Linked DNA regions of Homo sapiens. The protein of the gene in region 3 interacts with the protein of the main gene of each other region in a biochemical or structural test. Each region holds a gene or a part of one and is shown on either strand. Other genes may lie near its edges. The genes, in order: PAQR4, MCM3, KEAP1 and AMER1.

Region 1 (7,045 bases), on a different chromosome or scaffold from region 3:
GATGGAGATCAGGAAGACTGGCCACAGGCCTGGTGGGAGGAACAGGATAGGGTGAGGAGGCTCTGGGCTGGCGGCCTGGCAGGACTTGAACTCTCAGAGCAAGACGTGACCCCAGAGTCCCTCTCTGGTCTAACCCCACAGGTCACAGAGGGTAAAGAGGTCCCAAGAGGGAAAGGTTTCCTTCCAGCTGACACAGTAAAATAGGAGCTTGGAGGGAAAAGGCAGGGAAGGAAGTTGGAGCGCCACGGCGTGGGTGGAAGAGGTCAGTCCACAGGGAAGAACGGGTGAACAGGGCTCCTGCTGAGACATCTCATGAGCTGGAAGCATCCAAGGAGCCAGCCCCTTGCAGACGAGTTGGGAGGAACACCTGGTGTTGCTAACTCTAGGAGGCTGCTGTGGGCAGGCTGGCATGGCAGCTCAGTCCCGGGGACAGGCGTGGTGGGCAGCCCAGAGCAGGTCGGGCACGACGCCGGCGTGCAGCTGCAGGATGGAGCCCACGCTCAGCAGGTGCATGATCTGGTGGGAGTTGCCCCAGTAGTCAAAGCGGCCAGGTCCCCAGCGCTCGGGCAGACGGGCTACATTTACCAGTCCCCCAAGCAGCGCCAGTGCGTCCATGCGCAGGTAGCAGGGCAGGGAGCCTGGAGCCCCTGAACCCAGACCCACTCCCCGGGCCCCAAATACCAGTAGGCGGGCAGCAGCCTGCCATCCAAATGCCCGGAGCCGAGCACTGGTGGAGGGGGCGGTGAGAGCACGCCAGCCGGCCACACCCGACAACACAGTGTAGCCCACCAGGGCAGCCGGGCGCAGCCAGGGCCTGCAGGCCAGGGTGCAGTGGATGATGGGCAGGGCCCCTGCACAAGAGGAGAGAACAGGAGAGGGCATGTCATTGTGAGGGTCCACCCGCCCTTCCCTACCCATGGCTTGTATGCGTGCCCCATGCCTCTCCCGCCGGTGGCTCCAGCTCCCATCCCTTGGGCCCTGACTCACCAAGGGTGTTGACAAGGCAGACCCCACACATGTCCAGGGCGAGGAGCCGGGCGTACACAGCGCTGCCCCCTTGGTGGCACATAAAGAGGTGATAGAGCACGGAGCCTGCAGGGGGTGCAAGGCAGGCCACGCAATGTGTGCCTCCCAGCCAGCCATCCTTGCCCAGCTGACCCCAGGGCATGGTCATTGGCACCAGCACCAGGAAGCCCAGCAGGGCCAGCCCTAGGGAGGGAGACAGTCATCTACCAGATAGTTTCAGTCACATCCTCAAGGGGACCACGGTTCAGACACAACACAGGACAGGGCAAGACAGGTCCAGGTAATGCTGTCATCCAGTTGGCGGCCTGGCCTTGGCCAGAGACAGGCCCTGGGCAAAAGGCTTTTGGCACTGGTTACTTATCATGGCTCAGGATGGTCTGGGAAGTAGAGACCATGATCCCCACTTTGCAGGTGAGGAAACAGACTTGGAGGGGCTGAGTGACCGGCCCCGGGTGAGCCCAGCAGGTAAGCAATGGCAGAGGACAGGCCTAGGCCGTCCCACTCCCACACTGCTCTCCCCATACAAGCAGGTCACAGGAGAAGGCTAAGGCAGCGAAACCTCAAGTTGAGTTGTGAAGAGGACACATGAGCAGTGATGCCAGCCCGGGGCCACTTGGCTTGCTCTTCCCAACCCAAGTCCTCCCCTCTCCATAAGTGTCCAGACAAATGGAGGCACTGGGCCTTTTTATCTTCTATAAAGGGGTGAGGCCAGGTGGGGGAAGACAAGTCCAGAATGAAGGGAAGGGGGCTTCGAGGGGCTTGTCCCATCTCCCCAGACCTCTCCCTGGGGAGTTTGATTCCAGCCTAGCCCTTTCTGGGAGGTCTCCACCCCTCCCTGCCGGCCTCTAGTACTGGCCTCCCAGGGGCCAAACGGGGCTCCGAAGGCTGCCCACCCTTGTGAGAATGTGGCCTGGCAAAAGCTCGGGAAAGGCACCCAGGCTGGGCCAGGCCGCTCAGGGCCCCTTGCCCGCCTGGGGCAGCTCAAGGACGGGCAGGGCTGTGTCAGCAGAGCTCCGCGGGGCGCGGAGGAGGGGCCGGACGCCTGTTGGGGGAAGAAGGAGCCGCCACCAGGCGGAGCCCCAAGACAGAGCGGCTTGGGGCGGGGGCGTCAGGACGGCGGCGCTGGGAGGCTCCTCCCGGGCCCTCCTCATCGCAGTCAACACCATCTCCCGGCTGGGTGCTGGCGGGAGGGGGTTCCCAGGGCGCTGGGATTACAGAGGCCGGACACCATGCTCCCTACCCCTGGGGCTCAGAGGGATTAAGCAGGCTCAGACCCTACTCTGCTCCCCTCTCCTGACCCGGCCCCCACCCGCCGGGAAAACGGAAGCTGGCAGCGCGGCCCGGGACAATGGCAGCTTTGTCACCGCGGCTACTGGCGGTGCCAGGGCCGGGGCAGCCCTGGACTTGGGCGCTGGGGCCCTCCTCGGCCTCAGTGCCCCCGGCCCAACGCAGGTAGGGCGGCCGGGGGTGTGGGAAGCGCGTTGCGGGACGCGGCTCACCGTGCGTGTAGATGTTGCCCAGTTCGTTGTGCAGGTAGAAGAGGCTGCGCAGGCAGCCCGAGCCGCTGCTGGCGGGCCGGTACCCGGTCAGCACGAACTTATTGAACTGCAGGTGCGGCGGCGAGCTGGCCCAGTCCAGCAGGCGCGGCCCGGCCAGGAACGCCATGGTCCGCACCGCGCGGGCAGCCCGTGCTCCTGCTGTCCCCGAGCCTCCTCCTCAGTGGGGCCGCAGCGCGGGAAGGCCCATCACTGCCTGGCGCCCGGCGCCCGGCGCCCACCCATCGCCCTGCGCTCGATCGGCGCACGCGCTGGCTAGGGGGTCCCAGCCCGCGCCCCTCCGGCGCTGCGCACGCGCGAGTCCGTCGCCCCCGCGCCGGGGCGGAGGCTGGGGACGCACCGGACGCCTGAGCGCACTGCGGTCGGCTCCGCCAAGGCAGACGCGCCGCAGGGACAGCTCGCGGCGGCGGCGGCGGCGGTGGCCGGTAGTCTCTCTGCAGCCAGGAGGACGGGCGCGGCCGGACGCGGGAGGGGACGCCAGGCTCCGCCCAGGCTCCTAGTTCCCGCCGGCCGGCCAGCGTTTCGCGCGCCGGGCTCCTGACGTCGGCGCAGCGAGAGCCAATGGGCGTGGCCGGCGGGGAGGCTCCGCCCCGAGGCCGCCCAGGCCTCGCCTCCTAGCATAGTGTGCGCGCTCCCAGCCTCATTTGCATGGGGTGGCTGTGGGCTTGCGACCCAACGTTCTGGGTCCTGCGGGCTGCGCTAGAGTGACCCTGGCACCTCGCGTCCCTCAGAACTGTGCATCCGGGCTTTCCGCGTGACACCCAGGTCTCCGTACCTTTGGGCACCCACCCTCGGGGGCATAGTCCTGCCACCTAGCCCTACCCTGCAGACGGGGCTCTGTCCAAGGTGCTGCCGGACGGGTCCGGCCTACATCCGGTACGCCCCCGCTCCAAAGTGATCTTTCCGCAGGCTGGACTCCCGAGTGCAGCAAGGCGCTCCACGGTACCCAGGCCTCTGAAGGCGTGCCTCACGCGCCCGCAGCCGTCGGGAGAGGCCCTATCCTTCGCGCTAGGCTTCTCGGAGCGTGGGCCCGGCCCAACTTGCTCCCAGTTATCGCCCACAAGGAGCACCCTTGCGGGGCCCTACCGAGGATAGACAGGAAACAGATTGGAGGCCAGGGGAGCAAAGTCGACCTCCGCCCCGTCCACCCTGAGCAGGGACCGGGAAGGCACCCCTTATTCAGCATAACGCTGCCCACGATCCTCCTCCCCTTCCACCCCCCGCCTTCTACAGGACTCCACCCACCCACCCATCTGTCTGTGTTCTAGGTCCTTCTCTGCATTCCAGGCAGCTCCACCAAAGTCTGCGTGCAACGCCCTTCATTTGCATGGACACACGCAACCCTCGGCGTTTGTATGGTCATTAACATGCTCCTCCCACCACGGAAGAACTTTCGAGGCCCGTACCAAAGTAGATCCTTTATTCAAAATCTGTGGGGGTTTTTTGACTGTTTTTGCTGACCTGTGACCTCTCACTGAGGACGGCAGTCCAGGACCACCCCCAGAGGGGTTCAAAGACCTCCGAAACCAGAGACCACCCCCACATACAGGTCCATGGAGAGGGCCTGGACCATCTGGACCCCCACGGTCAGGCCAAGTCCCAGATAATAGCACCAGATGTTTCCTGTCCGACTTTTGGTCTCCCCAAGGCGACCAGAGGCCGAGCTGCCCCTACACAGGCGCAAGGCCGAGGCAGGGCGCAGCACAGCATCTCAGGTGTCCATCTCGCCGGCGGCGGGCCCAGCGGACCCTCGGGGCCCAGAGTCAGAGAGCGGAGATGAGCGAGCGCAGGGAGCTCTGGCTGGAGGCACTCAGAGGCCGGTAGCCCGCGGCAGAACCCTCAGCCTGGGGGTCCCCGGGGGAGCAGGGCAAGGCCACCCCTCGGGGCTGTTGGTACCACACAGCCCAGCTTCTCCTGGGGCCCCTGGAAGCCCCCAGCGCCGGGGGCCCTTTTCCCGGAGCCAGCAGACAGCTCCTAGAGAGGGAGCAGACATCAGCCGAGCCGGTCCAATCCCGCTGCAGCGTCCTGCTCTACCTGCGATCCCGCGCGCGATCCTGTGCGTGGACCCAAAGCCTCGCTCCCTTAAGAACCCAGGAGTTCCTTCCTAGCTCTGTTCCCTTCTGGGGCTCCAGCTCCCCACCACCGGTCCGCCCTCAGGCCCTGCCCCAGCGCCCCGCACCGTCGGCGCAGCGGACGCAGCAGCCCCAGGAGCAGCAGCAGCAGCACCGAGACAGCCGTCACCGTCGAGAAGACCCGGGCTGCGGGCACACGGCTGCGGTGAGGATGGGCGCGAGGGGGCGGCTCCCTGACTCACTCCCGTCCCGCGCGCCCGCCTCACCCCCAATCGCGGCCGGCGGAGCCCCAGGCCTGGGGCTGCAGCTCACGTTGGCCCCGTCGAGGGGCGCCGCGGGGGTCTGGGCCGAGCCCTCGGGGGCCTCTGGGTCCTCAGCGGCGTCCTGCAGCCCTGCGGAGAGGGGCGTGAGGCGGGGTGGGGAGAGCGGGGTGGGAACAGCGGGCAGGGCGCGCCGAGCTGAGGCTCACCGCGGTAGGTGAGCGCGAAGCCTTGCGCGTGGCCGCGCGCGTCGCTTCGGAAGGTGAGCAGCAGCGCGGCAGTGCCCAGGCGCAGCGGCCCGGACGGCGGTGGGCGGGCGCCATCGAAGGCGCGGAGCAGGCTGCCCGAAGCCGCGTCGCGCAGCTCCAGCCGGTCGCGCGGGTCGGCCAGCTCGAAGAGGCGGAAGGTGAGCTCCAGCGCGGCGCCTGGCGGGCCCAGGGCCCAGCTGCAGTTCCGGTCCGGCCCGTACTCGTCCGGGAAGTCCGGGGAGTAGATGACGCCCTGAGGCGCTGTCCAGTTCCCCTGGCAGGAGCCCACCGACACTGCGGGCGGGGCCGGCAGTCAGCATCCTGAGGACCAGGACACGGCGGCTCCCCTGCCCGGCCAGGCCCCACCTCGAGGCCCGCCCAGGCCCCTGGTCCCCGCCCACTCCTCACCTTCATAGACGCCCAGCCGCCCATCGCCGCCACACAGCTGTCCAGGGTGGCCGAAACAGATCTGGTCACAGTCGGTGGCGGGGGCCAGGCGTCCCCGGGCCAGGTCGCTTTCAGAGCCACAGAAGCAGGCGTAACCGGCCTCCACGCCCGCCAGCTGGGAGCACAGACTGGGTGACCCCAGGGCAGGGGCTGGGGTAGGGGTGAAGTGGTGGGGGCCTGGGGTCGGGGTGGGAATCGGGCTGGAGGTTCAGAAACCGGTGTCTGGGTTTGGCAACCGAGTGTTGGGAGTTGAGTGTGGTCTTTAGGTCCAGGTCAGGGGTCACTGGTCTGGGCCCGTGAGCAGTACCTGGTACCCCTTCATGCGGCAGAAGCGTAGGCACACCTGGACCGTGAGCTTCGTGGAGGTGCCGCTGGGGCCGCTGAGGGCTGGGGGTGCCCCTGAGTCCACAAAGCATCCCAGGTAGCCTGGCACTGAGGGGGCAGAGTCAGACTTCCGTGACTCCGAAAACAACCCTCCTCCCAGATGCAGCAGCGTTCCCACCTCTGTCCAGCCGCGCTACTCACTGTGACAGGAGGGGATGTCGCAGTAGCGCCAGTAGATGCCCTCCTCTGTCTCAGCCACGTAGCACCACGGCTGCACGTCACCGTCTGGGTTACTGCGGGTGGGAGGGAGGTGGTGGGGCTCCCACCACCCCAAGAATAGCAAACCCAGGCCCGGCCCCGCAGCCTATGCTCAAAGTGGCCTTCAAGGCTCTGTGCCTGTGAGCGGCTGTGCTGCCTGCTGTACACCCACAAATTCCAGTTTTGTCTACGCAGAACTCTGCCTGATGAAGGAACTGGACGTCGACTTCCGAGTGGACAGCGGGAAGTCATTAAAGGGGACTTGAGAGCTGTTTTTAGGCTTCAGCTGTTGCTAGACTTGACTCCATATATGAGGACTTTGAGGCCATCTGTATTCTTCACCCCCACCCGGCATGGGCCTCAGCCACTTCCGTCCCTCAAACCCCACTTTTTTTTTTTTTTTTTGAGACGAGTCTCGCTCTGTCACCCAGGCTAGAGTGCATTGGCGCGATCTCTGCTCACTGCAAGCTCCGCCTCCCGGGTTCAAGCGATTCTCCTGCCTCAGCCTCCTGAGTAGCTGGGATTACAGGCGCCCGCCACCATGCCCCGCTAATTTTTTGTATTTTTAGTAGAAATGGGGTTTCACCATGGTAGCCAGGCTGGTCTCGAACTCCTGACCTCAGATGATCCGCCTGCCTTGGCCTCCCAAAGTGCTGGGATTACAGGCTGAGCCACCGCGCCTGGCCTCCAACCCCACTTAAAAGCAGAAGTGAGCTCCTGAGCTTTGCGGCTCTCCTCCCGCTGGGTCCATCCTGCCTCAGACCGTAGCTGTGGCTCTGAACCCCAAAATAAGTTGTATGACAAGAGCCCCACTCTGACAAGGCCCCGCCCATTCGGCCCCCGCTCTGACCAGG
Region 2 (7,020 bases), on a different chromosome or scaffold from region 3:
CTGGTCTCAAACTCCTGGACTCAAGTGACCCACCCGCCTCGGCCTCCCAAATTGCTAAGATTACAGGCGTGCACCCCCAACTTCTTGGCCACTAACTTTTTAATCTCATTTGCTTGCCCCACCTTACCTCTTCCTCTTCTGCTCCTGGTCCTCTTGGCTTTTCTCCTCTTCATCTTCTGTCTCTGATTCATCCTCACTTCGCTTCTTACGTTTCTTCTCCTTCTCCAGAACCTAAGACCAAGGCAAGTGTGGCTGGGCTAGAGGGGTCACTGATGCAGGGGAACTGCATCAAGAACTCCCAGTCCCTTCTGCATCATAAGCAGGAAAGACTTCCATGTTTCCAATGGTTTACCTAGCTCCTCTTGTCCCTAAGTCCCAGGACCAGGGGCAGAAGTAGAGACTGCTACCCATCTTTTCAAAATGCTGGGAAGTATGTTAAATGCTGTTTATATAGTAGGTACTCAATAAATGTTTACTGAATAAAGAAACAAATGTCTAGCCCATAATGGTTAAGTGAAAACAATCCATTTCCTTATAAATCAGGTGTCTAATTGAAATCCAAGACAACCCTTAACCTAGCAAAAAGCGAGGAAGAGTTTATCAGACTCACAACTCAACCCTTAACCTAGCAAAAAGCGAGGAAGAGTTTATCAGACTTACAACTCAACCCTTAACCTAGCAAAAAGTGAGGACGAGTTTATCAGACTCACAACTCAACCCTTAACCTAGCAAAAAGCAAGGAAGAGTTTATTAGACTCACAACTCAACCCCAAAAGGCTAACATTCACCAGACTGGGGTGGGAGTGGGCAACTAGGAAAAGGGAGTCTAGGCTTTGAGGCTTGATATCTAAAATGACAGAGGTGCAATGTCACAAACAGAAATAGGGAAACAGGATGAGTGGCAAGTTTGAGAGTTCAACTTTAAACATGAGCTTCTGAGGTGCCAATGGGACATTTGAAGAGACTACCAAGAGGAAAGGTAGAGTGGGACAAGGAAGATTACCAAGGTAGCTCTTTTGAAAACACCTACTTTTTTTTTTAAGATGCAAAGGAAGTAGGGGTAGACAGAGAAGCAGCTAACTGAAAGTACAGCACATCAACTAAACCAGAATCTCTAGGAGCCCTGGAATCAGCATTTTAAAGCTTTCCATCTGATTCTCTGGTGCAGTCAGGGTTGAGAATCACTGAGTGTTTCAGAGGAAAGAGTGAGGCAGACTGATGACTGGAAGACAAATACTGCTTTCTGTTGACAATCCAAATGTAGCCGTCAGCCACGGAAGGCTGGGAAGCCCATGCATCTGTAATATATCCAGGAGATCCTCTCATGCCCAGGCATCTGAATCCTCACCTTCTTAAAGTAAGCATACTGGACCAACTCCACAGCTTCCTCTGCATCCTGCAGGTCCACAGTCTTGCTCATGCGGGCCTTCGCATGGGCTGTGGCCAGTCGAATCAGAGTTTCCAGTGTTCGGGCTGTAACTGGAGATGTCTAGGGAAGAAAAGGGAGGATTGCTTATCCCAAGTCTTTTAGGCATGCCCATCAATCCTACTGCACAGAAAGGGAAATGACACTACCAGAAAAGCCCCAGGAGGCCCAAGCAAAGAATTCAGAGTTCTGTGTTCTCTACAGATACCATATAAAAATGAGAAAGATGATAGCAATGATCAAGGAAATATACACAAGAGTGTTGCAGGAAGGAGGAGCAAGTGAACAGGGAAGATTAGGCATCTAACAACTGGAAAGATAAAAAGCTACAGCGTAGAAAAGAGAAGGGAGAAAAATCATCAGTGATTGCAGGCCTGCAATGCAGCAGGAAGTTTGCCTTTATATACATTCTGTCATTTCACCCTCTTAATAACTTGGAGAAGTTTTATACATGAAGGAAATGGGACTCAAAGACCTTCAAGGAGATTTTCCAAAGTCACACTAAAGGAGGGATAGGAAAGAAGTAATCTGAGGACAAAAACGTAACTTCAGTAAACTCAGTCCGGAGAAGGAGAACTCTGACACATTCCTAACAAATGTTTCTCACAGGGGCCGATGAATACCAAACTGGGATGCCTTTATCTTTTAAAATGCTATTGTCTGAATGGCCTTTCTTGACCTAATCAATCAGAATGAATTGGAAATGAATGAATCAGAAATCTCAGTGTTTAGGACTAGATATGTGTACAAGTTTCAGGTGATTCTGATGTATCCAATCCTCTCATTTTATGGATAAGAAAGCTGACCTGACAGGTGAAAGGATTTGTCCACAGTCCAAAAGCTAGCTGCAGAGCTGGGATCAGACATGAAACTACTTCCAGCCCGGACGTGGTGGCTCACATCTGTAATCCTAGCACTTTGGGAGGCCAAGGCAGGCGGATCACAAGGTCAGGAGCTTGAGACCACCCTGACCAACATGGTGAAACCCCATCTCTATTAAAAATACAAAAGAAAAATTAGCCCGGTGTGGTGGCGCATGCCTGTAATCCCAGCTACTCAGGAGGCTGAGGCAGGAGAATAGCTTGAACCCGGGAGGCAGAGGTTGCAGTGAGCCAAGATCATGCCACTGCACTCCAGCCTGGGCAACAGAGCGAGATTCCATCTCAAAAAAAAAAAAAAAAAGAAAAAAAAAGAAACTACTTCCTTCTGTCACACCTCCCGGGTCTCCCATTATATGACCCCATCACTGACGTATCCTGGTCACTTCTTGTTTCAAGTTTCCTAAATTACCATGTATATCCACAATGACATTCAAAAATAAATACATTCACATTTAAATTCATTCATCAAATCTTGTAATAATTTAGAAAGCTACCGGAGTTTGGAAGTCATACACTCCATGACAAGTTCTAATTCTTAAACCACCTAAAAAGCTGGTGAAATCCTGGCCTGCACTAGCAGACCTAGAGAATCCAAATTCTCTTGGAATTCACTTACAGACCCCACACTAAGACAATTAAAATAGTGTATGACGCTCAGTTCTAGGTTCAATGAGAGGGCCTGGGACACACCAGAAGTTCGCATGTGGAAAGGAACAGTTAAAAAGAAAGTAAGCTGTTTAATGAGGAAGACAGGCGATACACAACCTCCAGAAAACAAGACTAACACCCACAGGTAAAAGTTGTGGGAAAATAGGTTTAAGCTTAATAAATATTCTAAAATTTCAAAACAGTGATGCTCTGCGCATGCTGTCACTGGGGGTATTAAGAAGTCCCGGCCGGGCTCATGCCTATAATCCCAGCACTTTGGAAGGCCGAGATGGGCGGATCACGAGGTCAGGAGATTGAGACCAGCCTGGTCAACACAGTGAAACCCCGTCTCTACTAAAAATACAAAATTAGCCGGGCATGGTGGCACGCACCTGTAGTCCCACCTACCCGGGAGGCGGAGGTTGCAGTGAGCCCAGACCATGCCACTGCACTCCAGCCTGGGTAACACAGCAAGACCGCATCTCAAAAAAAAAGTCCCAGCAGGGATTTGAAAAGACAGAGTGGGTGAGGCTTGAGTAGATGATCTGGGATCATGTCTAATCCAAGAATCTATGTCTATGTAACATAATAAGAGTTCTGGACTTGGGTCTTTCTGCTGTAAAATCCTATGTGAACTACACTGCCCCTAAAAGATTTAGACAAATTTGGGCCGGGCATGGTGGCTCACACCTGTAATCCCAGCACTTTGGGAGGCCAAGCCGGGCGGATCACCTGAGGTAGGAAGTTCCAGAGCAGCCTGACCAACATGGAGAAACCTGGTCTCTATTAAAAACACAAAATTAGCCGGGTGTAGTGGTGCATGCCTGTAATCCCAGCTACTCAGGAGGCTGAGGCAGAACAATCGCTTGAACCAGGGAGGTGGAGATTGCAGTGAGTTGAGATCGCGCCATTGCACTCCAGCCTAGCCAACAAGAGTGAAACTCTGTCTCACCAAAACAAAAACAAAAACAAAACAAAAAAAAGATTTAGACAAATTCATGGACACCTATATTAGGTTACCAGAAATTGCTTTGAATAACCATCATGGTTGCCTGTTAGTCATTTTTTCAAAGTCCAGTCCAAATATCATACTCTCTGGGAATCCTTCCTTGACATTCATACCCCTTCAGGGAAGTCTAAAAGAAATTAACAGTTTATTCGTCTATGCTCAAATAGCCTTTCACGTTCATTCCTTTGTAAGTACCACACTGGGGTAAATATTTATAAATATGTACGGAAGTCTTTCTATCTACCTTTGTGCTTCCCCCGCTCCGGATCTGAGCTCTTTGAAAAGAGTGTTTATTAATTTTACATTGCTTGTAAGAGGAAAGACTAGGTCACTTCCCAGAAGTCACTCCTATGTTTGCTGAATGAATCACAGCTTCTGGAGGCCAATGTCATTTTAACTAATAAGAGACATGTTATCTCTGGGGTCCTTATTTCATTTTCCTTTATAAAAGGAAATGATTAAAATTGTATAACAGGAAGCCCTTCAGACCAGGAAAAAAGTCACTAAGTTAAAATGCTTTCAAAGCTCCCAGATAGCAGGGACTCCTGCCCAGCCATATACCTAAGGGACCCCAAGCCTAGGCTCCCCCAGGCACTCACCCTGGCGGTGTCTGAGCTCATGCTATCCTGGCTGCGCAGGCGTGAATACTCTTCTGCAATGTAGGTGGCCGACTCCTGTGTCAGGACAGGCTTGATGATTTTGGCCACATGGATGTACTTCTTCATGAATGCTGCACTCACCATCTTCTCCCTGGAGCCACACACAGTGAATTCCATCTCCCTGCCACACCTTACCACCTGCCTGGATTAGTGGCTTTGCCTCTCAGAAAAGCCAGGGTCAAAACAAAGCCTAGAACCCATTATCATAACTCCCATTTATATGGAACATAGACAAGACTCTTTCACATATTTTTATTTAATTATTACAGGTATTATTTGTAAGTTAGGTAGTTTAGGCAGAAAGTTTAGGTATTATTTGCTCTATTTTGTAGGTGGGAAAACTACAGCTCAGAGAAGCTCAAGTTGACTAAAAGTTTTCTGACTCCAAATTCTACATTCTTAAACCAACAGCTTTGAAGATTATGCTATGCTTCTTACTGCATCATGGCCAAAAATAGGTGTAAGATCCCACATTTCATGCTTTGAGCACCTGATCACACGTCTCCTTCACCAAGTCTACCTACAAAGTCTCAAATGTTTGCTATCTGCTGACCCTTCATCACAAATGGCTACATGACACTTGCCATCTTTCATATATAAGGCACACCCACCATCAGGCGTATCATCAAAACTCTATTTTAAGAAAAGACCTGAACCTGCGCTGAATCACCTAAACATTTACAAGGCAACTGGCCAGGATAAAGGATATATTGTGGACCCAGAAAAGAAGAAAATTAATCCACGTGGTTATGACTCCAGGCATGGCTTTGACCTGGGCATATAAGGCCTTAGCTAAGCTTAGATATACACATGCTCTAATATAACACATATTTCAGGTTCCCTTGAGGAAGAGTTATGAGAATGCTCACTTTTTCTTCTTGGTCCCATGTAGAAGGTTGTCATGCTTCTCATAAATCTGGGTGTCCTGCTGATCTTCCTGGCTAAAGTTGGGATCATCTGTGGCCAGGATATCCACAGCACTACCCAAGGGCATAGCTGGTATACCCAAGTTAGGAGAAAGGAGAGTAATAAAGAGTTTAACCCAGGGGAAATTGCTTCTTCTATAGCACAAGAAGGGGAGACACCAAGATTCATAAAGAAAGGGCCCAAAAAGAATCAGACACATGGAACCCACAAATAAAGATAGTGGAACTGCCTGGCTCACACAAGATGCTCAGTTATTCCCAGACCCAGAAATGGACAAAAGACACACCTTAGGATACCCTCCACTAAGCAAGAAGGGGAGGTGGCTAAACAGTTGAGGGCTCTTCAACATCAACCCGGACACTGAAACACCTACCACCACCTGGGTTGGGCCTGAGAAACTACCATCTGTTTAGCGCCTTTCCATTAGTTACTCTTACTATTCTTATGGCCTCACCATCGCCATCCTGCTCCCCAGGTGCTCTGTAACGGTGCATCCGAAGGACATGGTCTGAGATCTCCCGATCCTGCTCAGGATCCATCTGATCCAGCATGATGAAGAGCAAGTCAAATCGTGACAGCAGTGAGTCCTGTAGCCCAATGTTCTCCATTGGAGTCTTATACTGGTCATACTGGGGAATGCGAGGACAACAGAAGTGGACATGACATCAATAGGAAGAAAGAACAACAAGGCTGCTGCAGTTCTGGGAGTGGGAATGAAAGGCTTGACCTCAAAGAGCAAAACAGACAAAAAGCAGTGAAAAAGGGAAGTGTTTTAAAGCCATTAAACAATGTAAATCATCTCTTCTACCTGCAACCCTTCTTTAACTGAGCTTCCTAGGAAGCCCCACTTTCTACTACAGGAACCTCTAACAGGCTGAGTGTAGGTCTGAAAACCAGGCCCCTGCTTCCCAAACCTTATTCTGCTCTTCTCATTCCCAAGGCAGGACCTGACTCTGAAAGATGATCCCTTTCCCCTACCTGTCATAAAGACAGGGCAAGTTGGTTAGGCTACAAGCACTTAGAACTTTTTGGAGTCCCTTACTCAGAAGATACAAGTAAAACCTCAACTAAAATGGTCAATGATCTATATATCATAACATCTTAGAAACTGGCCAGGCACATCCACTCACACCTGTAATCCCAGCACTTTGGGAGTCTGAGGCAGGTGGACTGCTTGAGCCCAGGAGTTCGAGACCAGCCTGGGCAACATGCAAAACCCTGTCCCTATAAAAACTTAAAAAGAAAAAAAAATTTGCCAGGCATGGTGGTACGCATCTGTAGTCCAAGCTACTCAAGTGGCTGAGGTGGGAGGATCACCTGAGCCCAGGGAGGTCGAGGCTGCAGTGAGCCAGGATCACTCCACTGTACTCCAGCTTGGGTGGCAGGGTAAGACTATGTCTCAGAAAAAAAAAAAAAAAATCAAGGGAGTTTTTCCTTGGGATTCAAAAACCCCAATACTCTCCTTTCAAT
Region 3 (7,020 bases):
GTAGAGATGGGGTTTCACCGTGTTAGCCAGGATGGTCTCGATCTCCTGACCTTGTGATCCACCCGCCTTAGCCTCCCAAAGTGCTGGGATTACAGGCGTGAGCCACCGCGCCCGGCCATTTTTTTGTATTTATTTTTAGTAGAGACGGAGTTTCACTATGTATTTTTAGTAGAGATGGCATTTCTTCATGTTGGCCAGGCTGGTCTCAAACTCTTTTTTTTTTTTTTTTTTTTTTGAGATGGAGTCTCGCTCTTTTGCCCAGGCCGGACTGCAGTGGCGCTATCTCGGCTCACTGCAAGCTCCACCTCCCGGGTTCACGCCATTCTCCTGCCTCAGCCTCCCGAGTAGCTGGGACTACAGGGGCCCACCACCGTGCCTGGCTAATATTTTTTGTATTTTTAGTAGAGACGGGGTGACTGTGTTAGCCAGGATGATCTTGATCTCCTGACCTCGTGATCCGCCCGCCTCGGCCTCCCAAAGTGCTGGGATTACAAGCGTGAGCCACCTCGCCTGGCCAGTCTTGAACTCTTGACCTTAGGTGATCTGCCCATCTCAGCCTCCCTAAGTGCTAGGATTACAGGCGTGAGCCACCGGACCTGGCCTGTTTTTGCTTTTGAGACACAGTTTTGCTCTGTCACCTAGGCTGTAGTGCAGTGGCACAATCATAGCTCACTGTAGCCTTGAACTCCTGGGCTCAAACGATCTTCCCACCTCAGCCTCCTGAGTCGCTGGGACTACAGGTGTGTGCCACCACGCACAGCTAATTTTCATATTTTTATGGTAGAGACGGGGTTTCACCATGTTGGCCAGGTTGGTCTGGAACTCCTGACCTCAAGTGGCCCACCCCCTTGCCTTCCAAAGTGCTGGGATTACAGGCATGAGCCACCGTGTCCGGCCGTTGGTCTTAAACTCTTGAGCTCAAATGATTCTCCTACTTCAGCCTCCTGAGGATTACAGGTGTGCATCACCATACCTGGCTTGGCTTTTTTTTTTTTTTTTTTTTTGAGATGGAGTCTCGCTCTGTCGCCCAGGCTGGAGTGCAGGGGTGCAATCTCGGCTCACTGCAAGCTCCACCTCCCGGGTTCACGCCATTCTCCTGCCTCAGCCTCCCGAGTAGCTGGGACTACAGGCGCCCACCACCACACCCGGCTAATTTTTGTTTTTGTATTTTTAGTAGAGACGGGATTTCACCGTGTTAACCAGGCTGGTCTTGAACTCCTGACCTCAGGTGATCTGCCTGCCTCGGCCTCCCAAAGTGCTGGGATTACAGGCCTGAGCCACCGCGCCTGGCCTCTGAGTTTTCTGTTTGTTTCTTTTTTTTTTTTTTTTGAGATGGAGTCTCGCTCTGTCGCCCAGGCTGGAGTGCAGTGGCACGATCTTGCCTCACTGCAAGCTCTGCCATCCAGGTTCATGCGATTCTCCTGCCTCAGCCTCCGAGTAGCTGGGACTACAGGTGCCCACCACCATATCCAGCTAATTTTTTGTATTTTTAGTAGAGACGGGGTTTCACCATGTTAGCTAGGATGGTCTCGATCTCCTGACCTCGTGATCCGCCTGCCTCAGCCTCCCAAAGTGCTGGGATTACAGGCGTGAGCCAACGCGCCCGGCCTCTTTTGTTTCTTTTTTTTTTTTGAGACAGAGTCTCACTCTGTCGTCAGGCTGGATACAGTGGCGTGATCTCGGCTCACTGCAACCTCTGTCTCCGGGTTCAAATGATTCTTCTGCCTCAGCCTCAGCCTCCTGAGTAGCTGGGACTACAGGCACGCACAACCACACCCGGCTAATTTTTGTATTTTTAGTAGAGATGGGATGTCTGAGTTTATTTTTTAAGAGACAGGGTCTTGCTCTGTCACCTATGGTGGAGTGCAGAGGTGCCACTGTAACCTCAAATTCCTGGGCTCATGTGATTCTCCTGCCTCAGCCTCCCAAAGCACTGAGATTATACGCACGAGCCAACTCACCCATCTTGTTTTTTAAAATGAAATCATTTTCTAAAATGGCAAATAGACTAAAAAAGGAAAAAATAAGCAATCACAATAGAATGTTGTGGAAAAAAACAAGTGACAGCTCTGGGCCAGCACAGTGGTTCCCACCTGTAATCCCAGCACTTTGGGAGGCCAAAGCAGGCGGATCACCTGAGGTCAGAAGTCCGAGACCAGCCTGGCCAACACGGTGAAACCCCGTCTCTACTAAAAACAAAAAAATTAGCCAGCTGTGGTGGTGGGCACCTGTAATCCCAGTTACTGAGGAGGCTGAGGCAGGAAAATCGCTTGAATCCAGGAGGCAGAGATTGCAGTGAGCTGAGATTGTGCCACTGTACTCCAGCCTGAGCAACAGAGTGAGACTCCATCTCCAAAAAAAAAAAAAGTGGAAGCTCCGAAGAAACCAGCATGAGTTGGAATTTTGATCCGACCACTTCGTAGGTGTGTAACTTGGGCAAATCTCTGAAATGCTCCATGTCTTGGTTTTCCTCCTCTGTAAAATGGGATTATATTAATGGCCACCTCAAAGTAAGGCTACTTCTAGGGTATACAGAGCCCTGGATAAATATTTCTTGTAGCCAGGTGTGGTGGCTCACGCCTGTAATCCTGGTACTTTGGGAGACCAAGGCGGGAAGATTGCTTGAGCCCAGGAGTTTAAGACCAGCCTGGGCAACATAGCGAGACCTCATCTCTACCAAGAAAAGATATAAAAATTAGCCAAGCATGGTAGCTCACGCCTGTAGTCTCAGCTACTCAGGAGACTGAGGTGGGAGGATCACTTGAGCCCAGGAGCTGGAGTTTGTGATAAGCAGAGATCGTGCCACTGAAGTCCAGCCTGGGTGACAGAGTGAGACCCTGTCTCTAAAAAAAGAAAAAAAAAAAAAAAAGGCCAGGTGCGGTGGCTCACACACGTAATCCCAGCACTTTGGGATGCCAAGTCGGGCGGATCACTTGAGGTCAGGAGTTCAAGACCAGCCTGACCAACATGGTGAAACCCCATCTCTACAAAAAATACAAAAATTATCTGGGCATGGTGACACATGCCTATAATCCCAGCTACTTGGGAGGCTGAGGAATGAGAATCACTTGAACCCGAGAGGCGGAGGTTGCAGTGAGCCGAGATCATGCCACTATACTCCAGCCTGATGACAGAGTGAGACTCTGTCCCCCACCCCCAAAAAAAAAAAAAAGGGGGCTTGGCGTGGTGGCTCAAGCCTGTAATCCCAACACTTTGGGAGGCTGAGGTGGGCGGATCACGTGAGGTAAGGAGTTCCAGACCAGCCTGGCCAACATGGTGAAACCCTGTCTCTACTAAAAATACAAAAATTAGCCAGCGTGGTGGTGCACCCCTGTAATCCCAGCTACTTCGGAGGCTGAGGCATGAGAATCGCTTGAACCCAGGACATGGAGGCTTGCAGTGAGCCGAAATCTTGCCACTGCACTTCAGCCTGGGCGATAGAGCCAGACTCAGTCTCAAAAACAAAAAAGGACTGGGCGGTGGGGGGCGGGCGTGGGCGCAGTGTCTCATGCCTGTAATCCCAGCACAGTTAGGGAGGCCAAGGCAGGCAGATCACCTGAGCTCAGGGGTTCGAGACCAGCCTGGCCAACATGGTGAAACCCCATCTGTACTAAAAATATTTTTTAAAAATTAGCTGGGCATAGTGGTAGGCACCTGTAATCCCAGCTACTTGGGAGGCTGAGGCAGGAGAATTGCTTGAACCCAGGAGATGGAGGTTGCAGTGAGCCGATACAGTGCCACTGCATGCCAGCCTGGGTGACAGAGTGAGACTCCGTCTCAAAAAAAAAAAAAAAAGTTGTCAGGCACTCGTCTATGTAATCAGTTTTAATCTAGTACCCCATGTTCATACAAACACAAGAAAGAAACACTGTATATGTTTCTCCTACTGTATAGACCACTTTCCTAGAAGCTGCAGGCCCTAGGACTAACGCCAGAGAACCCTGGGGCGTCTGATCAACCCCACATGTAACATAGAGGGTAGGAAAGAATCTATCCCTGAAGGAGAGAAATAGAGATCAGTGTAACATCCATCCCAGCTGGTACCAGCCAGTGGGGGACTTAGAAAATTTCCAGGAAGGAACACCAAGACATGGGACTCCCGAAGGCTTAGGGCCTGGGGCACTGCCCTGCTTGCCTAGGCTGAAGGGTAGTACTGCCTCATAGGACAGTTGGGAACAGTCAATGATGCAAAGGACATAAATCACTTAGAACAGGGGCTGGCCCACAGCAAGTGCTCAATAAACACTTCTTGGCCTGGTGTTGGTATGGTGCTTCATACCTGTAATCCCAACACTACGGGAGGCCAAAGCCAGAGGATTGTTCAAAGCCAGGAGGTTCGAGACCAGTCTCAGCAACATAGCAAGACCCTGTCTCTACAAAAAAATTTAAAAACTAAAAAATTAGCCATGCGTGGTGCTGCATACCTATAGTCCCAGCTACTCAGGAGGCTGAGATAGGAGGCCTCCTTGAGCCCAAGAGTTGGAGGCTACAGTGAGCTATGATGGCACCACTGTATTCCAGCCTGGGGACAGAGCAAGACCTCATCTCTTCAAAAACTTTTTCTTTTTTTTTTGAGACAGAGTTTCGCTCTTATTGCCCAGGCTGGAGTGCAATGGCGCAATCTCAGCTCACTGCAACCTCCGCCTCCCGGGTTCAAGCGATTCTCCTGCCTCAGCCTCCTGAGTAGCTGGGATTACAAGCATGAGCCACCATGCCAGGCTAATTTTGCATTTTTAATAGAGACGTGGTTTCTCCATGTTGGTCAGGCTGGTCTTGAACTCCCGACCGCAGGTGATCTGCCCACCTTGGCCTTCCAAAGTGCTGGGATTATAGGCATGAGCCACCGCGCCCAGGCTTTTTTTTTTTTTTTTTTGAGACAGAGTCTTGCTCTGTCGCCCAGGCTGGAGTGCAATGGTGCGATCTCGGCTCACTGCAACCTCCACCTCCCCGGTTCAAGCGATTCTCCTGTCTCAGCCTCTCGAGTAGCAGGGACTATAGTCACATGCCACTACACCCGGCTAGTTTTCTTTTTTTGTATTTTTATTAGAGATGGGGTTTCACCATATTGGTCAGGCTGGTCTCAAACTCCTGACCTCAGGTGAGCCACCCGCCTCAGCCTCCCAAAGTGCTGGGATTACAGGCGTGAGCCACTGGGCCCTGCCCTCTCTTGTCAATTTCTATAGATAATTTCCTTCACTGAGAAATGTGAAAACGAAACCAAAAACAGTATAAGGACATTGTGTGGACCAAAGAAAACATGACTAAGGTTCAGACTTACAGCTTGCAGCCTGTCACGGGTGTCCAATAAACATTTGCTGACTGCCCGAAAGGCTGGGCTACCCTAGGATTTGGCTGCTGTTCACTGCACTCTGCCCCACTTTGACCCCAGAGAAACCAGGGAGCCCAGAGACATATGAAGACCTCACCTTCCCCAGCTGTTCACCAGTCTCCCCACATGTGTAGACAAGGAACTCAGAACCCCAGTTGTTTTTTAATTTTTTTTTTTTTTGAAACTGAGTCTTGCTCTGTTGCGCAAGCTGGAGTGCAGTGGCTCGATCTCCACTCACTGCAACCTCCACCTCTTGGTTCAAGCGATTCTCCTGCCTCAGCCTCCTGAGCAGCTGGGACTACAGGCGCCCGCCACCAGGCCTGGCTAATTTTTATATTTTTAGTAGAGATGGGTTTTAGCTATGTGGGCCAGGCTGGTCTTGAACTCCTTACCTCAGGTGATCCACCTGCCTCGGCCTCCCAAAGTGTTGGGATTACAGGCATGAGCCACCACGCCCGGCCCCAGTTGTTTTTTGTTTGTGTGTTTGTTTGTTTAGAGACAGGGTGTCATTATGTTGCCTGGGCTGGTCTTGAACTCTTGGCCTGAAGCAATCCCCCCGCCTCAGCCCCTCAAACTGTGGAGACTACACCACCATACCCAGCCCAGAACCTCCTTTTTCTCCAGTTTCCTGCCTTGACATCTCAAGGGGAGACAGTGATGAGCACTCGTCCATCCCTGGTCCTTCTCCTGACACTGCCCCCAGCCCCACTTCCCCGCTCACCTCCCCAAAATGCATGTAGATGTACTCCCGGGCACGCTGGTGCAACTCCACACAGCCAATCTGCTCAGCGAAGTTGGCGATGCCGATGGCATTGCTGGGGTCCAGCTGCTGCACCAGGAAGTCACTGCAGGCACGGACAACGCTGTCGATCTGGTACATGACAGCACCGTTCATGACGTGGAGGACACACTTCTCGCCCATGGAGATGGAGGCCGTGTAGGCGAATTCAATGAGGCGCTCCATGACCTTGGGGTGGATACCCTCAATGGACACCACCTCCATGCCCTGCTCCCGCAGCCCGTTGGTGAACATGGCCTTGAAGACAGGGCTGGATGAGGCCAGCACCACCTTGTGGGCCATGAACTGGGCGGCCGGTGCATCCTGGTACTTGACCTGCAGTGTGACGTCACACAGCTGCTGGCTGAGCCGCAGCTCGTTCATGATGCCAAAGGCCTGCTTGGTATGATCCTCCAGGGTGTAGCTGAAGGTGCGGTTGCCATGCTGGGAGGGCGTCACCTCCGCCTTGCACTCAGTGGAGGCGTACATCACCGCGTCCCCTGCCCCCTCAGGGCACTGTGACTGCAGGGGCAGGAATCGGCAGCAGGCCCCAGCCCCGCTAGGCCTGGGATCTGGCTGCATGGGGTTCCAGAAGATAAGCAACACCACCACCTCTGGCACTCAGGGACCTGGAGGGGAGAGAGCACAGGGCAGAGGGCAGGGGTTGGGACTGGGCCAGCACCTGCCGGGCCTCGTTTTGCAAGATAAAGCAATTCCTAGGTCAGTTTTCCTGCAAAGTAGGTGAAGCAGAATCCATTTGCAAACTTGCAAACTTCCCCGACCTGATCAACCTGATTGGCCCAAGAGCCCATCTTAAAACATACATGAAGTCATGTCTCTCCCCTGCTCTGGATCCTCCAATGCCTCCCACAGTACCTAGTAAAACTGAACTCCTCAACAGCCTGCAAAGCCC
Region 4 (7,919 bases), on a different chromosome or scaffold from region 3:
AGATCCAAAGGTGACCTCTTAACTGGCTGACTTTGCAGCATGCTTCTGATCCCTTTCTAAGACCCCATTCTAAAACTCATTCAAAAACCTTGTTTTTATTACTGCTTAGTTACATACAAAAATAGCAACTCCCTGTCAATTCCCTACTCTTTGATGCCGCCTTCCCCTAAAAGGATCAGATTTCCATTCCACAGCCTGGCATCCGGGAAACCCCATCACTGAGCCTCAATCTCTTCTCTACCTCTGAGCCACACCATCTCAACCAGAATAGACTCATTCACTCCCTTCACCCTGCCTGTCAATCACTTTCTCCCCTCCCATTCCTGGGTCTGCTTATGCTTTGCCTACTAAACCCCTCTACTTTCTGGCAGCTTCCATGGATGATCCCCCTGCTTATACAGATCTTTCATCTCTCTCCAAGTAGTTTGTCTCTTGGCTCATGAATCAGCAACCAAAGATATGCATGGTCTGGGATCTGAGCATTCCAAATCCTGGGCCTGTTGTTGGGGGAAGATATATCATGATTTTTTTCTTGTAGTTGCAATCATCCCCCTTCTAATCCATCCTCATTAGGCACACTCAATACATATCTGAGCCTTGAGTATCATTTCTCTAGCCACTTTCATATGAATCAGGACAAGCGCAAGTTGGAAAGGTAAAGGTCTTCTGGAAAACTCTACAAAGAAAGCAAGTCCTTCCGGAACAATCATTAACTGCTCTGCACTGCTTGGCTTTGAGAGGGTTGTGGCTGAGGTCCAGGTTTTATTTACTCCTCCAAAGGGTTCTGAGAGAACCCAGACATCCATGATATCAGACAAAACAGAGGCAGGCCAACTTAATTATAGTCTGCATCCTATTATAATTTAAGCCTGAATATGCCCAGGAGAAGTAGGCAGCCCTGGAGGAGTTCTGAGAAGAAAGAAGTCACCATGGGTGGGCAAGAGCCAGGCAGAAAGGCACCAAGGAAAAGGAAGGCCCAGAACTGAGGTTTGAGAAGGAAGAAGATTTGGACAGGTGTAGGCTGAGTGGGTTTGGGTGTGGGGAAGGGAGTTACATAGAGCAGATACATTAGGTGCCTGCTGGCCTGAGACAAGGCAGAGGGCAGGTCCAGCCCTGGGCTAGAGATGCCCAGCTGCAAGTAGAGGTTTGTGTTGGGGCCTAATCAAGGTGGGAGGAGGTGACTGTAGTGTGATATCTGTGGTCCTGGCTCCTGTCATAAAGGTCCAGAGCTAGCCTTCCCCCAAGTGAGGAATTTACTGGGTCTCGTTGCCCCTCCTCAAAGTGCCCAAGCTTTGCCTGGGCCCTGCAGCCCACAGGGCTCTCCACACCAGAGGTTAATCAAAGGTCCAAGAGCTTACCAAGCCCCCAGTGGCTTCCTCTGTCCTATTCCTCAAAAAGGCCTAGAGAGCCCACTGCCAGAGGTGCACCATGGTGCAGTGACTGTGCAGTGGGTGGTGCCGAATGAGGGGAGCCACACTGGGGGAGGGGGCTCTGCTGGAATCCCGGTGGGGCAGGCAGTCCAACAGTGCAGTGCCCTCTGCCTTGCCCATGCCCACGCCGCTGCAGCAGGCAGGCAGAGCCGCAGAGGAAGATGTTTGTGTGTGGAACAAGGCTCGCCTTGACCCCGCGGCCCTTGCCGAAAGCAGCCTGGCCAAACGGAGACCAGCTCTGCGGGGCCAGTCCAGCTGCCGCCTAGGCGCTTGGGCTGTGACGCATGTAGCGGGCACAGCCCCTCACCACCGGGGGAGCCAAGCAAAGTCCAGCGTTCGGGCGGTCACCAGTGTCAGAAGTGTCTCCAGCAGACAATGACAGGGGCCTGGCGGGCTGGGTATGTTAAGTAACTGCGAAGTTGGAGGGTTTGGCCACCTCGCTAGCTCTCCTGTACACAGAGATGGTATGATACGTTCCGTACTACAATGAGGGCTCCTTCGGCCTCTGGCAAGGAAATGCCCCCCAAACACCGTGCCTATTGCTATTTTTAAACGGGAGGCTGGAGAGGAAAACGCGGCCAGTATCCTCCAAGGGAAAAGGAGGTGAGGCGAGGCGAGGCGGGAGACAAAGCGGCCTTGCAGCTCTAACTCAAGGACTAGCTTGCGCCGCTGCTCTAACCCAAGGACCAGCAAGAGCCCGGCTGCCAGCCAGCCTGCCCGACCGCGGGGGCGGGCGCCAGATGCGCCCGGAGGCCCAGGAGGAGGGGCGCGGCTAGTTGGGGCCACAAGGCCAAGGTTCTGAAGGGAAGTGTGCGACTGAGCTCAGCCCACAGGCCCAACTGAGCTCCTCTGGGGAGGGGGCAGTCTGTGGATGTCCCAATCCACGCCAAAGCCGGTCTCCGTCGGGCCCAAGCCAGCACGCCAGCTTGAGTCCGCAGAAAGGAGGGAGAGGCTGGAGATGCACAGGGGAGGGGAGGGGCGGCAGCCAGGCAGCCGGAGAGAGGGGTGAGCGGTACCCGCGTTACACAGCTGTTCCAGCAAATGTGCTACAACAAAGCTGCAGAGCTCCTGGCCTACAAATGCATGGCTTGGGGTGCTGGCTGGCGGCGCCCTTCCCGGGACTGTGCGGCAGCACGTGCGGGCCCATCCCCGCCCCCCCGAAAGCCGGGAGGCTTGGCCCAGGCTAGCCTGCCTTCCTACCCGCCCTCCCCAACCCCCCTCCCCCCAGCCGTGGTCGCTTGTGCCCAGGGGACTCAAGGCCGCTCTGCCTCTCCACCCGACAGTCCGCAAAGCGGGTTCCAAAGGAGAGGGGCGAGCGACCGGGACTCCGACCCGCCTAGTCCTTAGTGCCCTCCTCCAGTCCGTAGGAGCAGAGCACGCGGGAATGCACCCGACCGCGGGCAGGCGGAGGCTCCTGGCTGTACGCAACGCTTACCCAGCCCGGTCAGGTTCCTAGCCCGGTTATTGTCCGCTGAGCCGCCCTGGGCCGGGCTGCAGCCTCGGCTGCCACGGCTGAGAGCGCCGCCACCGCAGCTGCTGCCGCCGTCGCCGCGGCTCCAGTCACCTCCAGCACTGACTCCCCTTCCCCAGGCTTTGGGTAGCTCCCCCATACCCCCTCCCCCAGTACTCCAAGGCCACCGGGTGGGGCATCTGCGTCCTGATTGGCAGGCATATGGCCCAATCGCTATGGTGGGAAGGCGTGCCCCGGCCCGCCCACTGTTTTCCTTGGTGCGTTTCTCTTTAAATGCAAATAAGTGCAGGCGTGGTGTTGGCAGGGGGCGGAGAGGGTGCGGAACCACTGGCTGGGGCTCCCCACTCCCGCCCCCACGCCGGGCTGGTAGTGGCGTGGCTACACCGTGGCCTCAAGGAGCCAGTCCTGCCCGGATGGGGCTCGCCGGATCGGTTTCGGTTTTCACGCACTCCCATTTCTGTGGCCGCTGTGCATTCGCGGTACTGTGCCCTGGCCGCCACCAGGACGTTTATTCCTGAGCTAGAGGCCGGCGGGGAGTAACGAGGCAGAGAGGTTGAGGAATCTGGGAAGACTGCAGAAACCTAAGGGCCGGCCTATCCTTAGTCGTAGAGACAAGGCCCTGCGGATCGCGCCGCCAGGCCACCCAGAGGAGGGACTCACCTGCCAGGAAAGCTAGCTGCAGCGCCTGCGCCCTAACTTCGTCCGCCTCTCTGGCACACCAGTGCCCTTAGAGACCATAGAGGCCAACTTCCACCCGTTACCGACGGGCCCTCTGCTGCCCAGAGTGGGGAAAGTCCCTCCCCACAGTTACCCAGCCTGCCGGCGACAAGGGCCAATTTGGAATCCAGAGCCCCGGGCTCCCTTTCCAGGATTGCTTTCACTTTTCTTCTCTGAGATGATACCTGTTTCCATAGTTTGACCCTCACCCAAATTTCGCACCTTCTATGGAATGTGGAGGGAATCCCCAAGGTCTCCAGAGTCCCCCTTCCCCCATCCTTTGTGAGCCTGGCTTTCGGCAGGCCTTTTTCCTTGAAAAGTCTAAATATTGAGAGGAAAATCTTGTCTGGGCCCAAACCGGAGGTCAGGCTGAGGACAAAGTGAGGAGGCCTGTACCAGCCTTGTCTGCTACTGTGTGTGGGATGTGGCAGGGAGCCCGGCGAACTTGGGTCTCTAGCCTAAGGACATTAAGTGGCATCAGTGGCTGCCAGGGCCAGGTGAGCTGAGGCAGCAAAGAATCTAGTTCCACCACTAGTTCAAGAATATCCAGAAGGCCCAGCCCTAAAACTCTGTGTGTGTCTAAAAAGGGAGGTGGGTGGATTAAAGCTGAGGATAGAGAGAAGGATTAGAGAACAATGCGTGCTATTTTTGCATTGCAGGAGTGTTCTCTGCTGCTTCTGGGTCCTGACAGTCTTGAAAAGATCCAGCTGCTGAACTGGTAAGAGGTGGACTGCTGCCTCTGCATGTGTAGAGCACAGGAACTGACATGGCTGCTAGGGATCTGACTCTAGCTCTACCTCAGACTTGCTGGACACCTTGGCCAATTCATTTTTTTCTCTGGGCCAGGGCATCACCCCACCTCCACAAGGAGAGGGTAAGCATCATCAGGCTCCCTTGATATCTTTGAGATCTGACAGTTCAACTCATTTTTTTCTATAATATTCCATGATCTTCCACGGAATATTATAGAAAATATAGATGTTCCATGACCTTCCATGGCATTCTATACATTGCCAACAAAAATCAATATTGAACATCAGACTCCCATCCTAGTACTGAGTCTAAATAAACGATGAGGAGTAGGGAGCTGCTGCTGGCTCATTATGCAACTTTTTTCCCATCTGGATGGCTGGACTATAAAAGTTTCCCTGGGGCTATGCTTTCCTGCTTTGCAAAGTCCTGATTCTCATTTGTGGGCCTGATTTGGAAGTTTATTTTCTTTTCCAGAATCTCCATTATAGACTTCCTCCCTACCTCGTGCCTCTGGTCACTGCCACTTGCTCACATTTCACTCAGAACCTTGATTCTTTGAATTAGACTAAGATTATGAGAAGGCAGTTTGCAAACCTGGGGTCCAGGGAAACAAAGGGCCAGAGCAGTCTCAGTTGTGGAAGCAGGGAGAGAGGAGGTGTGCAAAGTAGTCAGGTGGCAGGCTTGAAATAGTCCCAGGCACTATTGTGCTGCTCCTGTCACAGGGGCTAGTCTTCTATGCCTTCTGCCCAGCCACCAAACATTCTGTCACACCAGTCAGTTTTTGGAGTGACTAGTGTGGGAGGAACAATTCGTGAGAAATTGAGCTAAACCCAAAAGAAATGGGGCTTCAGGAAAAAAAATATTCTTTGTGATCCTAGAGAACTCCCAGCTGAGCACCCTTCTTTATGGTCCAGATATTACTGAGTCTTGGGAGGATACTGTATGTGTGTATTAAAGGGGAAAAGATGTGGGAGGGGACAACACAGCTTCTTGTTTGCATAGCTCACTTCTCTCCAGGGACGATGTATGGAAAGACCAAGTGTGTGCATAAACTTGCACCTCAAAATGCCTCCTCATAGAGAGAGTACTGTAAGACCCCATTCCACATGCTGACTGACACGTGGTCAACTTGCTTAGTCAAGACAGGCACTGGTTGTGAGGAGCTGGAAATCTTTCTTAAGTTTGTTTACCTGCAAAATGGAGATAATCCTCGTGCTGCCTAGTGTCTTGTGGCTGCGGTGAAAAGCCCATAAGAACAGATGTGTGGGCTGTGTGGAGGCAACTTCATAAACTCAAGTAGACACATCATTACAGGGCACATCATTACAATGCTCATTTCTTTCTTCACCAAGTATTCCATAGTCATTTCCTCTATGCCAGGCCTGTTGATAGTTATTGGGAGAAGCAGTACAGTGTTAACCTTTTTGAGGCACCTGGGTATGGAGTTCTGAGAGGAACTGAAATCTACACTAGAGGTCTGGCAAAGGTGTTCTGGAGCATTGCAGATGAAGAGACTCCTTCTCCCCAGGGTGGCAAGGGGTATCAGAGAAAAGTTCTATGGAGGATAGCTTTGACGGTTGGGTCAAGTCAGAAAAGTAGGGGAAGGATTCCTGCCCAAGCCAAAGCCCATCAGTGAGAGGGTATGGTGGGTTGGGCAAGAGCTACAATTCTGGATGGCTGTGGCTAAGTATTTGTGTGGTGGGGAGAGGAAGAGCTGGACATTAGACTAGAAAGAAAGGCCTGGGGCCAAAGTGTAAAAGACCATGACTGCCTGGGTAAATTGAGGCTCAACTAGCTAAGTTCATCTTTTCCAGGAAAGTGGTATGTTGTAGTGGCTCTGCCACCAGACTGCCTGGGCTGGGATGTGAAGCTTGCCACTTAGGAGCAGTATGATCTGGGCAGGTCAATTTACCTCTCTGAGTCTCAACATTTTTTTCTGCAAAATGAAAATAATAGCACCCATGTCAGAGAATTGTGGTAAGAATTGAGTAGTCCATATGAAGTGGCACAGAGGCTAGTACATAAGATGGTATCAATAAATGTTAGTTACTGATGCTGTTATTATTATTGCTATCCTTCTGATCCAATGTACAGATCTTCAAAGTTATGGAACTGCTAATATGACTTTGAAACCAGTTTTTGTTTTGTTTTTGGTTTTTTTTTTGAGACGGAGTCACGCTCTGTCGCCCGGACTGGAGTGCAGTGGAGCGATCTCGGCTCACTGCAAGCTCCGCCTCCCGGGTTCACGCCATTCTCCTGCCTCAGCCTCCCGAGTAGCTAGGACTACAGGTACCTGCCACCACACCCAGCTAATTTTTCGTATTATTAGTAGAGGCGGGGTTTCACTGTGTTAGCCAGGTTGGTCTAGATCTCCTGACCTCATGATCCATCTGCCTTGGCCTCCCAAAGTGTTGGGATTACAGGCGTGAGCCACCACACCTGGCCGAAACCAGTTTTTAATATAAACACACATGAGCCTATGATTCCTTATGAACAGACTCACTTTATTGTGCAGACCCAGACTCAGTTTCCCAGGGCAGAATATTTTGTTCATCTTCATATCCTCAGCACTCAACAGAGAGTTTGGCAGAAACTTGTTGATGAGTATGTATTTACTGAACATGAAATGAGGCATTTTCAGGCCTAATATCAAGCTTAAGTGCCAGCATCCACCAATGAAGTGTGATGTTACCACTCATTGGGCATCTCCTTTGTGCCAGGCCCTGTGTTAAGTGACACACTCATTACCCAGAATGATGGACTACACACAGCTTCTGGTCTCAAGGGCAACCAGTCTAGTGGAAGAGGAAGAAAACTCCTGAGTTTCTTACTTGGACAAGGGACTGCTGGATGGTGTTGTCATCCACTGAACTGAGTAATATAGGAACAGAATTAGGAAAATGTGGCCAGGTGCGGTGGCTCACGCCTGTAATCCCAGCACTTTGGGAGGCCGAGGTGGGCGGATCACAAGGTCAGGAGATCAAGACCATTCTGGCTAACACGGTGAAACCCCGTGTCTACTAAAAATACAAAAAATTAGCCGGGCGTGATGGCGGGCGCCTGTAGTCCCAGCTACTTGGGAGGCTGAGGCGGGAGAATGGCATGAACCTGGGAGGCAGAACTTGGAGTGATCCTTGATCGCTCCACTGCACTCCAGCCTGGGCGACAGAGCGAGACTCCGTCTCCAAAAAAAAAATGATTTTGTTTAGGACATACTGAATTTGACTTGTCAGAAATCCCACCTCAGGGCCTTTGCACTGGCTGCTCCCTCTGCCTACAGTGTTTGTCCTCTGAATATTGGCATAGTTTGCACCTCATTTCCTTCAGGTGGCTGCTCAAATGTCATTAATAGTGACACCTTCACTGAACAGTTGATATATAAAATAGCAATCCCCATTTCCACCCCCTTCACTCTCCAATTCTTTAATAGGCCTTTTTTTCTTATCCACAGCATTTACCACCTCTTGGTATATTTTTTATTGTTATTTATTTTAGAGTCATTTTTAAATTTTCTCTTTCTTATCATGAAAATGGAAGCTCCGTGAGGG

The links.
Region 1: the proteins of KEAP1 (region 3) and PAQR4 form a complex in vitro, tested with the Homo sapiens proteins (one study listed by BioGRID).
Region 2: the proteins of KEAP1 (region 3) and MCM3 form a complex in vitro, tested with the Homo sapiens proteins (2 studies listed by BioGRID, with this or other methods).
Region 4: the proteins of KEAP1 (region 3) and AMER1 form a complex in vitro, tested with the Homo sapiens proteins (2 studies listed by BioGRID).

What each region holds. Positions count from the first base shown.
Region 1 is NC_000016.10:2,965,321-2,972,365, reverse strand, and holds the start of PAQR4 (progestin and adipoQ receptor family member 4), read right to left. Parts: upstream 3,019-7,045; 5' UTR 2,692-3,018; coding exon 2,526-2,691; intron 1,210-2,525; coding exon 988-1,209; intron 852-987; coding exon 418-851; 3' UTR 1-417. Other genes in the region: KREMEN2 (kremen protein 2 isoform d precursor), read right to left, coding at 4,346-4,556, 4,762-4,840, 4,921-5,046, 5,124-5,456, 5,571-5,724, 5,917-6,041, 6,135-6,226. UniProt on the Homo sapiens protein: Plays a role in maintaining adipose tissue function through the regulation of ceramide levels. Mediates the stability of ceramide synthetases, CERS2 and CERS5, and their activities.
Region 2 is NC_000006.12:52,267,738-52,274,757, forward strand, and holds part of MCM3 (DNA replication licensing factor MCM3), read right to left. Parts: intron 6,180-7,020; coding exon 6,005-6,179; intron 5,620-6,004; coding exon 5,493-5,619; intron 4,766-5,492; coding exon of another isoform or gene 4,715-4,765; coding exon 4,564-4,714; intron 1,490-4,563; coding exon 1,349-1,489; intron 270-1,348; exon of another isoform or gene 232-269; coding exon 128-231; intron 1-127. UniProt on the Homo sapiens protein: Acts as a component of the MCM2-7 complex (MCM complex) which is the replicative helicase essential for 'once per cell cycle' DNA replication initiation and elongation in eukaryotic cells.
Region 3 is NC_000019.10:10,493,345-10,500,364, forward strand, and holds part of KEAP1 (kelch-like ECH-associated protein 1), read right to left. Parts: intron 6,737-7,020; 5' UTR 6,690-6,736; coding exon 6,051-6,689; intron 1-6,050. UniProt on the Homo sapiens protein: Substrate-specific adapter of a BCR (BTB-CUL3-RBX1) E3 ubiquitin ligase complex that regulates the response to oxidative stress by targeting NFE2L2/NRF2 for ubiquitination.
Region 4 is NC_000023.11:64,202,705-64,210,623, forward strand, and holds the start of AMER1 (APC membrane recruitment protein 1), read right to left. Parts: upstream 3,005-7,919; 5' UTR 2,866-3,004; intron 1-2,865. Other genes in the region: uncharacterized protein LOC112268307, read left to right, coding at 3,315-3,380, 4,278-4,336. UniProt on the Homo sapiens protein: Regulator of the canonical Wnt signaling pathway.